Linked DNA regions of Homo sapiens: region 1 is linked to region 2. Evidence: fine-mapped expression QTL. A gene starts in region 2. The other region holds a variant in brackets. All regions are shown on one strand. Distances are from middle to middle. Region 1 has its middle 6.7 kb from the start of LINC02482. Region 2 holds the start of S100P (S100 calcium binding protein P).

Region 1 (5,000 bases), 27 kb after region 2:
GTCACGGAGATTTAGGGTGGCTCATGCAGCAAAAGCCAGTTGATGGCCGTAGGTGGGATTATAATCCCGGATACATTAAAATGCCAGTCTCTTCTTTTCCCCATGTCTTCATTTGCTCACTCTCAGGTGAAGGGATCTTGCTTGGAGGCCCAGACGTTCTGGATTTTCTCTTTAGAAACTGTGGCTTGAAGCATCCTCTTCAGGAAACAATATTTACTCCTTTTGTATCTCCAAAACCCCTCCTCACCCCTTTTGCAACCCAAACCCAAGTGTCTTCTGTGTCCTATTTTTCTTCTTTTGAGGCAGAGTCTTGCTCTGCTGCCCAGGCTGGAATGCAGTGGTGCGATCACGGCTCACTGCAGCCTCGACCTCCCTGGCCCAGGTGATCCTCGCAACTCAGCCTCCCGAGTAGCTGGGACTACAGGCACATACCACAATACCTGGCTAATTTTTTTGTATTTTTTTGTAGAGGTGTGGTTTCACTATGTTACCCAGGTTGGTCTTGAACTGAGCTCAAGCAATCTGCCTGCCTCGGCCTCCCAAAGTGCTGGGATTACAGGTGTGAGCCACTGCGCCTGGCCAGCTTGTACATTTTACAATCAAGATTACAAGACTACTGCCAGCTGTAGGCCACATCAGGCTCTGAGAAGAGGGGATGTGGACAGAGGTAACCAGGACAAAAGGAAAAAAAAGTCCTTAATTTCACCTTCTCTGATGCCATTTAGTTCATGCCGATCATCTGTAATTCACATCTGTGAACTTTCAGCCCGTTTGGGAGAAGCCTTCCCTCAAGTGCTTAATTATGGCACAGGATGGTCTCTTTTACACAAACGACTGTGCAAAGACATAGAAAGTGGAATTTATTTCTATCAGAATTAATTCAGAAAATCTGGGTAAGTTCCACACTCCATTTAACACTCATTACACATAATAACTGGTCAGACCACATTGTGTATGACTTAACCCACATTACATGAATAGTCTAGGAATAACAAAAGAATTTACTATTTATTTATCTGAAACAATGTTGATTCTGGGTTTGGTAAGATTCTGGGCTCGACACAATTCTGAGTCATGCTAAATTCTTCCACCAAAGGCAGCTGCCATAATGGAGTGTCTGGTACAGGAAGCGCGAGCCACTGGAGTGTGGGACGCATCACGGCCACAACAACAAAGCTGTCTCCACGTCCACTGCTAGCCGGGCGGGGCAGTAAAACGTGGTGTCTTGCACGTTGTATTTTCAAGAAACGGCCACAATGCAATTGCTAACAGTTGCACCTGCTCTTCCAGAACCTTGCCATGCCCATCAAGAGGTGGAGTCTGTGTCTCCTCCCTTTGACCCTGGCGGGACTTTGTGAAGGTGATATGGCAAAGAGATGCTATGGGACTTCCGATGCTTACTCTCCTGGGTTTTGTACATTTGGACGCCAAAGCCACCATATACGAAGTCTGGCTCCCCTGAAATTGCCATGCTGTGGAGACTATGTAAAAAGATCTCTGGTCGGGCGCCCCAGCACTTTGGGGGGCTGAGGCAGGTGGATCACTTGAGGTCAGGAGTTCAAGACCAGCCTGGCCAACGTGGAGAAACCCCGTCTCTACTAAAAATACAAAAATTAGCTGGGCGTGGTGTGGGGTGCCTGTAATCCCAGCTACTCGGGAGGCTGAGGCAGAAGAATCGCTTGAACCTGGGAGGCAGAGGTTGCAGTGAGCTGAGATCGTGCCATTGCACTCCAGCCTGGATAACAAGAGCCAAACTCCATCTCACAAAAAAAAAAAAAAAAAGATCACTGAAAGAGATATCCGTATCTGGAAATGGAGTGCTGCCGAAGGATGCTGAAGAGACAAAGGAAGCCTATTGGCTTTGAGAAGGCTCTCAGTGGAGACCTAAAGAAGAGTGAGGCATCTGGAGGTGCTGCAGCCCACCAGGCTGCT[G/C]TAACAGAATGTCATAGCCTGGGGGGCTTAGAAACAAAGGTTCCTCACAGCGCTGGAGGCTGAAAGTCCAAGATGAAGGCGCTGGCAGATTCAGTGTTTGGGGAGGGAGAGCCCTTTCTCTGTGTTTTCACATGGCAGGAGGGGCGAGGGAGCTCTCTGGGGTCCCTTTGATAAGGGTACTAATCCCATGCATGAGGGCTCCACCCTCATGACCTTGCCACCCCCAAAAGCTTCTTCCTAACCCCATCACATTGCGGGTAGGATTTCAACATGGATTTTGAGGGGACACAGTAACAGGAGGAAAGGGGTCCCTGTTACACAGAAGCAGAGTTTAGCAATACCTAAACTCTGCAGAAACGTGGAAGAGACAGCATGTACTTATGAAACGGATTCCAGGCACTGCTGAAGAGTTGCCTGACCTCTGGTTGCTTAGAGTAAAATGCAAGCGGAACTCTTAACTCTGAAGGATCTGGGGCTTGTGGGTTTGTAATCACCACTGTTTCTCCCTCCCAGCCTCTCAGGATGGCAAGGAATGCTAACGTTAAGAAATGGTTTCTGAGGCTGGGCGCGGTGGCTCACGCCTGTAATCCCAGCACTTTGGGAGGCCGAGGCAGTAGGATCACCTGAGGTCGGGAGTTCGAGACCAGCCTGATCAACATGGAGAAACCCCGTCTCTACTAAAAATACAAAATTAGCCGGGTGTGGTGGCACATGCCTGTAATCCCAGCTACTCGGGAGACTGAGGCAGGAGAATCGCTGGAAGCCGGGAGGCGGAGGTTGCGGTGAGCCGAGATGGCGCCATTGCATTCCAGCCTGGGCAACAAGAGCGAAACTCCGTCTCAAAAAAAAAAAAAAAAAAAGAAAAAGAAATGGTTTCTGGACAGAGGTAAGCCTAGGGTGGTGCTATCAGGAAAACGTGGCTCACGCCTGCAATCCCAGCACTTTGGGAGGCCGAGGCAGGCGGATCACGAGGTCAGGAGATCGAGACCATCCTGGCTAACACGGTGAAACCCCGTCTCTACTAAAAATACAAAAAATGAGCCGGGCGCGGTGGTGGGCGCTTATAGTCCCAGCTACTCGGGAGGCTGAGGCAGGAGAATGGCGTGAACCCGGGAGGCGGAGCTTGCAGTGAGCGGAGATAGCGCCACTGCACTCCGGCCTGGGCGAAAGAGCTAGACTCCGTCTTAAAAAAAAAAAAAAAAAAAATGAGACCAAAGGCATGACCACAAATCCCCTGTCTTCACCCAGGCTGGCTGCTTCCGCTTCACGTTCAGTATATTTAAAAGTTCTTGCCATGAGACAGGGTTTTCTTATCCCCTCATCCACCCCGTCTTCCCCTTTGGTGAAGGAGGGTGAGTTTGTTAAGACGTTGTGGAGGAACTAAGGCTTCCAAAGGTTTCGGGCCTGAGGTGACGAGAGGGGCCAGAACCTAAAGGAAGAGCCGAGGTGCAGGAGAGGCAAGGAGCCAACATGGCGACAAACTGGGGTGGGCAGCGGAGAGGGGGACTCAGAATGCCCTCTGGGGTGGACTCAGAAGACCAAATTTGCAGCATCCCTGGCCTGTGAAGGTCGCACAGAGTGAGGCTGCACTGTGGTAATGGGCTGCTCCTACCCACCCCCGGTGAACCCTCAGGGCACACCCTGGGGGTGGGCTGCACCTACCTACCCACGCTGAACCCTCAGGCGCGCCAGCAGCGGCTCCCGGCAAGGGGAACAGCCTGGGACTGTGGGGTTGAGCTGCAGTCAAGTGGCTGAGGCTTCTGAACTGTGATAAAAGCACCGCGGGCTCACGCCTGTAATCCCAGCACTTTGGGAGGCCGAGGCGGGTGGACCACGAGGTCAGGGGATCGAGACCATCCTGGCTAAGATGGTGAAACCCCGTCTCTACTAAAAAATACAAAAAATTAGCCGGGCGTGGTGGCGGGCGCCTGTAGTCCCAGCTACTTAGGAGGCTGAGGCAGGAGAATGGCGTGAACCCGGGAGGCGGAGCTTGCAGTGAGCCGAGATCGCGCCACTGCACTCCAGCCTGGGCAACAGAGCGAGACTCCGTCTCCAAAAAAAAAAAAAAAGCACCGCGGAGAGCGGGAAGGAGGCCTGGGAGGAGACTGCACTATCACCCAGTGAGTGTGAGTATGCGTGTGTGTGAGCATGAGTGGTGTGTGAGCGAGTGTGTGTATGCGAATGCATGTATGTGTATGAGTGAGCATGAGTGCACGTGTGAGTGTGAGCATGTGTGAGTGGTGTGAGCAGGTGTCTGAGAGCATGTGAATGCGCATGTGAGCATGTGAGCGAGTGTGAGCATATGTATGTGTGGGAGTGAGCATGAGTGTGAGCTTGTGTATTGTGAGCCTGTATGAATGTGAGCATGAGTGCACATGTGAGTGTATGGGTGTGAGCATAAATGTAAGTGGTGTGTGTGAGAACATGAGTAAGAACGGGTGTGAGCATGTATTGTGGGTGTGGATGAGTGTGAGTGTGCATGTGCATACATGTGGGTATAAGTGTGAGCGAGTGTAAATGTGTGTATGTGTGTGACATTGTGTGAGCATGTGTGTAAGCGTGTATGACTGAGCATGTGAGTGCACATGTGAGTGCATATGCATGTGAGCATGAGTGTCAGCGGGTGTATGTGTGAGCATGAGTGAGTGGGTGTGCGTATGTGTGAGTGTGACCATGACTATGTGAGCGTGTATGAGTGTGAGCGTGTGAGCGCATGAGTGTACATGTGAGCATGAATGTGAACGGATGTATGTGAGCATGTGTGAACCTGTGTATGTGTGTGAGCATGAGTGTGTAAATGTGTGCGTGCGAGCGTGAGTGTGAGCATGAGTGTGTGTGAGTGGGCATGATGAGTGTGCGTGTGAATGCTCGTGTGAGCGTGCGCGGCCGGGCCAGAGCCGCTGGGCGCAGGGAGCGGGAGGCCTGGGAGGAGCTGCAGGCCGAGGCTGAGCCACCTTCCTCAGGAGCTGTTCCCATCACCTCTAGGCGGCGCGGGAAGCGCTCGGTGTGCAGCGGTTCCTGAACCTGCATCACCCACAAAGAATTTTTTTTTTTTTTTTTTTGAGACG
Region 2 (5,100 bases):
TCAACACCACCAGACACGGCAGAGGCATCGCCCTGTTACAGATGAAGATGATAAGGCCCAGAGGGCCCAAGGGACCTGCCCTGAAGTCACACAGGGAGCCGGGGAAAGCCAGGGTTGAGCCCCAGGTGTGGAGCGAGCATGGAGCAAGCACCCTGAGCCCTGTTCTTCCTCTCTGCTTGGGTCCCAAGCTCTCAGGTCTTCTTTGAGAAGGCCAGGCCGGCAGGGCTCTCAGAGCCTGCCCATGTGATAGCAAAGCGTTCTCACTGTGGGACCAAGCGGGACCAGGATGCAGATCTGAACAGCAGCAGCAGGGTGTGCTGATGACCCAGCCCTGGGCCAGAGAGCTGTGTGTCCAGGTGGAAAGAAACACAATTAAAATTGGTAGAAACATATCATCTGACCAAGACACAACTGTGTGCATGAAGACCTTAGTGACAGCATGGTTTGCAATAGCAAAAGTAAGGCAGGGAAGTACAAATTCAATAGCAAACAAATAGTGGTATGGCCATGTCACAATACCCTGCGGCCATTTCAAGTGATGTTTACAAAGTTTGTAGGCAGACAGTCACCTCGTATTTACAAAGCTCCGACTGTGCGGGGCGCTGGGTTGGGCACGGAGCAGATAGGGCCAGAAGGCCAGCCCAGCCCAGCCCTGCCCTCAGGCGGACATTGTTCTCTGACTCCGGCTTTGCTGGGCTTCAGCAGCCTCCGGAGGGAGGGCTGAGAAGGGCACCCAGGGCCTCCCCGAGGTGATTCTAATGTAACACATTAGCTGGACCCCCAGCTTTGCCATTGCTTCTCAAAGTGTGTTCCCAGGACACCTGTGCCTGCCCCTCCCCACACCCCAGTATCTTGGATCAAAGTCCTCATGGGTTCAATTCTCATACTTTGATCATTATCAGAACACCCCGAGCCCCAAGCCCAAGTTCCCAGGATGGGGCTGGGGTGTTTAATGAACATCAGAGTTTGAGAATTTATGTTGTAATGTTAAGCTCAAAAAGAAATTACATTGCATGTAAATCTCACTCACAGCAATGTTCATATGGGGAAAAGGCTGGAAGGGAGAGGAAGCGTCTGTATTCCAGGGGGGATTTCTTCCCTCCATATTTATCTATTTTTACATTTTCTACCAAAAACAGAACTTTATTTTTAAAAGATATCTTTACAGAATTCACATTTAGAAAATAGAACTAGGCCAGGTGTCGGGGCTCACGCCTGTAATCACAGCACTTTGAGATGTCGAGGCTGACGCATTGCCTGAGCACAGGAGTTTGAGACCAGCCTGGGCAACATGGTGAGACCTTGTCTCTAAAAAAAATACAAAAATTAACCGGGTATGGTGACATGCACCTGTAGTCCCAGCTACTCGGTAGGCTGAGGTGGGAGGATCACCTGAGCCCAGGGAGGTCGAGGCTGCAGTGAGCCGTGATCCTGCCACTGCACTCCAGCCTGGGTGACAGAGTGACATCTTGTCTCAAAAAAAAAAAAAAAGAAAAGAAAAGAAAATAGAAGCAATATTCTGAAGTGTTTCATGTCTTTGAAGTGATTCTAGGGCTGAAAATTTCAGGCTTTCATTTTTGATTATCAGCATCTATGTGGGTTAGCCCCTTAGCAGGTAGGCAGAGTCTGGTGGGGCCCGAAGGGGAGGGGAAGGAAGGAAGAAAGTGGGGGAGTGAGAAAGAAGGAGAGGACAGGGGTCAAAGGGAAGGGGAAATGGAGAGGGTACGGCTTCTGTTCAGCCCAGCCGGAGGCTGCCCCGGGCGGAAGGAAGCTGGTCCTGGCCGCCCTGAGGGGCCTTCTGTGAGGCTCAGGCCGGTGGCTCCTCCCTGGCAGGGAGCCCAAGGGAGGTCCACAGCTCTGCGCAGACAGGTGCCAGGATGGAGCCTCCTCCCGTCCTTCCTGCCAGACCCACTAATACCAGGCAACAAGGGGCCTGGGAATGGGAGCAGGGAAAGCGGGCAAGTGGGAGGCAGAGCTGGGGCGTTTATGGCCGGCAGCCTTGGAGGACAGCCCCGAGGGCTCAAGGGCTTGGCAAGCTTGGCAAACTTGCAAATGGCAGCCCTGGATTGCATTCCGCCCCTGCCCCCACTGCACAGGTTTGAGTCCCACTCTCCCACCAGGCCTGTCACAAATACACTGGGGTCAACCCCATGTTTCAAGGATCAAGCTGACCACACCCTCTCCCTGCTCAGATGCTCCCGCCTCCCCTGCCTTTATGCCAGGGTGGGTCCGTTCCTTGGCTGGGCTTCCAGGGCATTTCAGGATCTGTCCCTCTTGCCTCTGAGCCCCTTGACCGCCGACCCCACCGCAGCTCTCAGCCCTCTGCCTGCCACGCCTTCCCCTTCTTCCCCAGCCCCCGCTGAGTCCAGCACTGCCGGCCTGGCTCACCTGCAGGAAGCCTGGTAGCTCCTTCTCCATCAGCACCTTGAGCTCCCCCTTGGTCAGGGTCTGCGTGCTGCCCTCGCTGCCCGAATATCGGGAAAAGACGTCTATGATCATGCCCATGGCTGTCTCTAGTTCCGTCATGGTGCTAGATTCAGACCCACCTTCCTCCTGGGGGCTGGCAGGGCCGAGAAAATGTCCCACTGGCAGCCTCTTGGTGCTTTATAAGGCAGCCTCATATTGACACAGAGGGTGGGACAGTGGGGTTGGGACATTCAGGAAGTCCTGCCCCTCCCCATTCATGTGCTCAGTTCTGATGAAATGCATCGTTGTGATGACGTTTCTGGAACCTTTCCCCCAGCCAAGGCCCAGGGTGTGGGCTGCCTCCAGGCATCCACATTTTACAGTGTTCACCTGTGTCTCGGCGCCATCACTGAGCCACAGTGGCATCCTCATTCCTGGCCCTCCCTGGGTAAGTGGGCACGGGGTGAGTGTGTGTGGAGTGAGTGGTGACTCCGTGGCCCTTTGTGTCAATATCAGAGCGTGCTGGCACCCAGCGTGCTGACACGAGGAGACATCTGAGAGTGAATTCACATGGGCGTGTTTGTGAACATGGATCTGCCCCATCGTCCCTTTCTTAGAGCACTCTGTGTCCTTCAGAGGCCCAGCTTCCACGTCAATCTCGCTCGCTCCTCCCCTGTGGGGCCAAACAGAAAACTCCCCTTCATCCTCTGGGAGTTTGCTGAAAATCAACGGGCAGAAGGCAGATGAATAGGAGAAGAGCATAACAGATGTATTTGATCATAGCTTATGTGGCACGGCAGCCTTCAAGATGAAGATCCAAAGATCTGGTGGAAACTATCCATAAACACAGTTCAGCGAAGTATGGAAATATGATTGGATACAAAAGTAAGGCTGGATGCTCACAGACCAAGAGGAGAGCCTGGTAGGGCCTGTTGAGTCAGATTCCCTGGGGCCTCTCTGAGCAGCTCTCCTTCCTTCTAGGTGTGGGGCAGGACTCTTTCTGGAATGGAGCTCTTATGACCTACAGTCAAATAAAGCAGGCCAGAGGGTTTCTTTAGGCTGGTTTCTACACAGAAAGGGGAGGGAGTGGAGAACTGGAGTCATATTTCTGGGTTTTATGGCAGGGTTTGGGGAAGCCTCTCAGAGGAGGAGGAGCTGGAGACAGGAGGGTGGGAGCAGGACAGAGAAACTTTTGTTTCTGAGGCTTCCACGTTGGGGTGTTGTTTTTTGAGCCCCGGCACTTACCAAACCCAAATCACCCACAGGGCTTAGACGGCACAAAGGCTCCTGGGACTCTGGGCAGAGTCAGGGACAGTCACACCCCTCCCCGTCTCTATAGCGGAGGTACTCAGAGGGTCTGTGCTTGGGAGGCTGAGCGAGTCCTGGAGAGCATGGAGGTAGGGGCCTGTGTTCACATCCTGCCCCGGTCAAAGTAGGCCCACACTCAAAGGCCTCTCTCTCAGCAGAGATCTTCCAGAGTGTCAGCCTCCAGCAAGTTCCCTAACCTCTCCCAACACAGCCTCCACCAGCACATGGGCCGAGACTCTCCCCACGGGGCTGTGGCTCAACATAGAAAAACCTTGGTGCACGATGGCAGCAGCAGGTCTCACAAGAGCCGGCTTTCTCAGAACACACTGCCTCTGCCCAGGTGTCCTGCAGTGGAGGCTCAGACTGGCCCCACTGGTGACCCCTTGGGGAGCAGGGACAGGTCCATTCTGCTCACTCCTGAGCTGGGCAGTTCCCTCTTGGGATAAGGTCGCACAGCACAGGCCACCATCATACCACCCCAGCCAGAGAAGTGGGAGAGAGAAGGAGGCTCCCTACCCCAGAGGCAGTGCTCCTCAGGAAGGGCATTCACTGCGTTATATAGATATATATATACACACACACACACACACATATATATACACATATATACACATATATGTATACACACATATATACACACACACATATATACACACACACATATGTATATACACACACATATATATATAGATATACACACACATATATTTTTTGTTTGTTTGTTTGTTTGTTTGCGATGGAGTCTCACTCTGTTGCCCAGGCTGGAGTGCAGTGGTGTGATCTCGGCTCACTGCAACTTCCACTTCCCGGTTTCAAGTGATTCTCCAGCCTCAGCCTCCCGAGTAGCTGGGACTACAGGCATGTACCACCACACCAGGCTAATTTTTTGGGGGTTTCACCATGTTGGCCAGTCCGGTCATCACTTTGTTTTAAAATTTTTATTTATTTATTTATTTTTATTTATTTTTTGAGACGGAGTCTCGCTCTATCACCCAGGCTGGAGTGCAGTGGCACGATCTTGGCTCACTGCAACCCCTGCCTCCTGGTTCAAGTGATTCTCCTGCTTCAGCCTCCTGAGTAGCTGGGATTATAGGCATGCACCACCTTGTCTAGCTAATTTTTGTATTTTTAGTAAAGATGGGGTTTTACCATGTTGGCCAGGCTGGTCTTGAACTCCTAACCTCAAGTGATCTGCCCACCTCGGCCTCCCAAAGTGCTGGAATTACAGGCATGAGCCACCGTGCCTGGCCCCATTTATTTACTTTTAGAGACAGTGTCTTGCTTTCTCACCCAGGGTGGAGTGCAGTGGCTCAATCACAGCTCACTATAGCCTCCAACTCCTGGGCTTAAGTGATCCTCTCACCTCAGCCTCTCCAGTAGCTGGGA

The links. PIP is the estimated chance that this variant, and not a neighbour inherited with it, causes the effect.
Region 1: its variant is the best candidate, but not a certain one, in a credible set for the expression of S100P in whole blood (INTERVAL, PIP 0.66).

What each region holds. Positions count from the first base shown.
Region 1 is chr4:6,664,660-6,669,659 of GRCh38, reverse strand. No RefSeq gene overlaps it. Among named protein-coding and RNA genes, the nearest start is that of LINC02482, 6.7 kb to the left of the region's middle. The variant G/C (reference allele first, on the strand shown) is at 1,933.
Region 2 is chr4:6,691,359-6,696,458 of GRCh38, reverse strand. S100P (S100 calcium binding protein P) reads right to left here and starts at 2,581. Exons shown (of 2, transcript NM_005980.3): 1 at 2,389-2,581. The coding sequence starts at 2,526. RefSeq lists enhancers at 1-375, 1,578-2,313, 2,314-3,050, 3,360-3,897.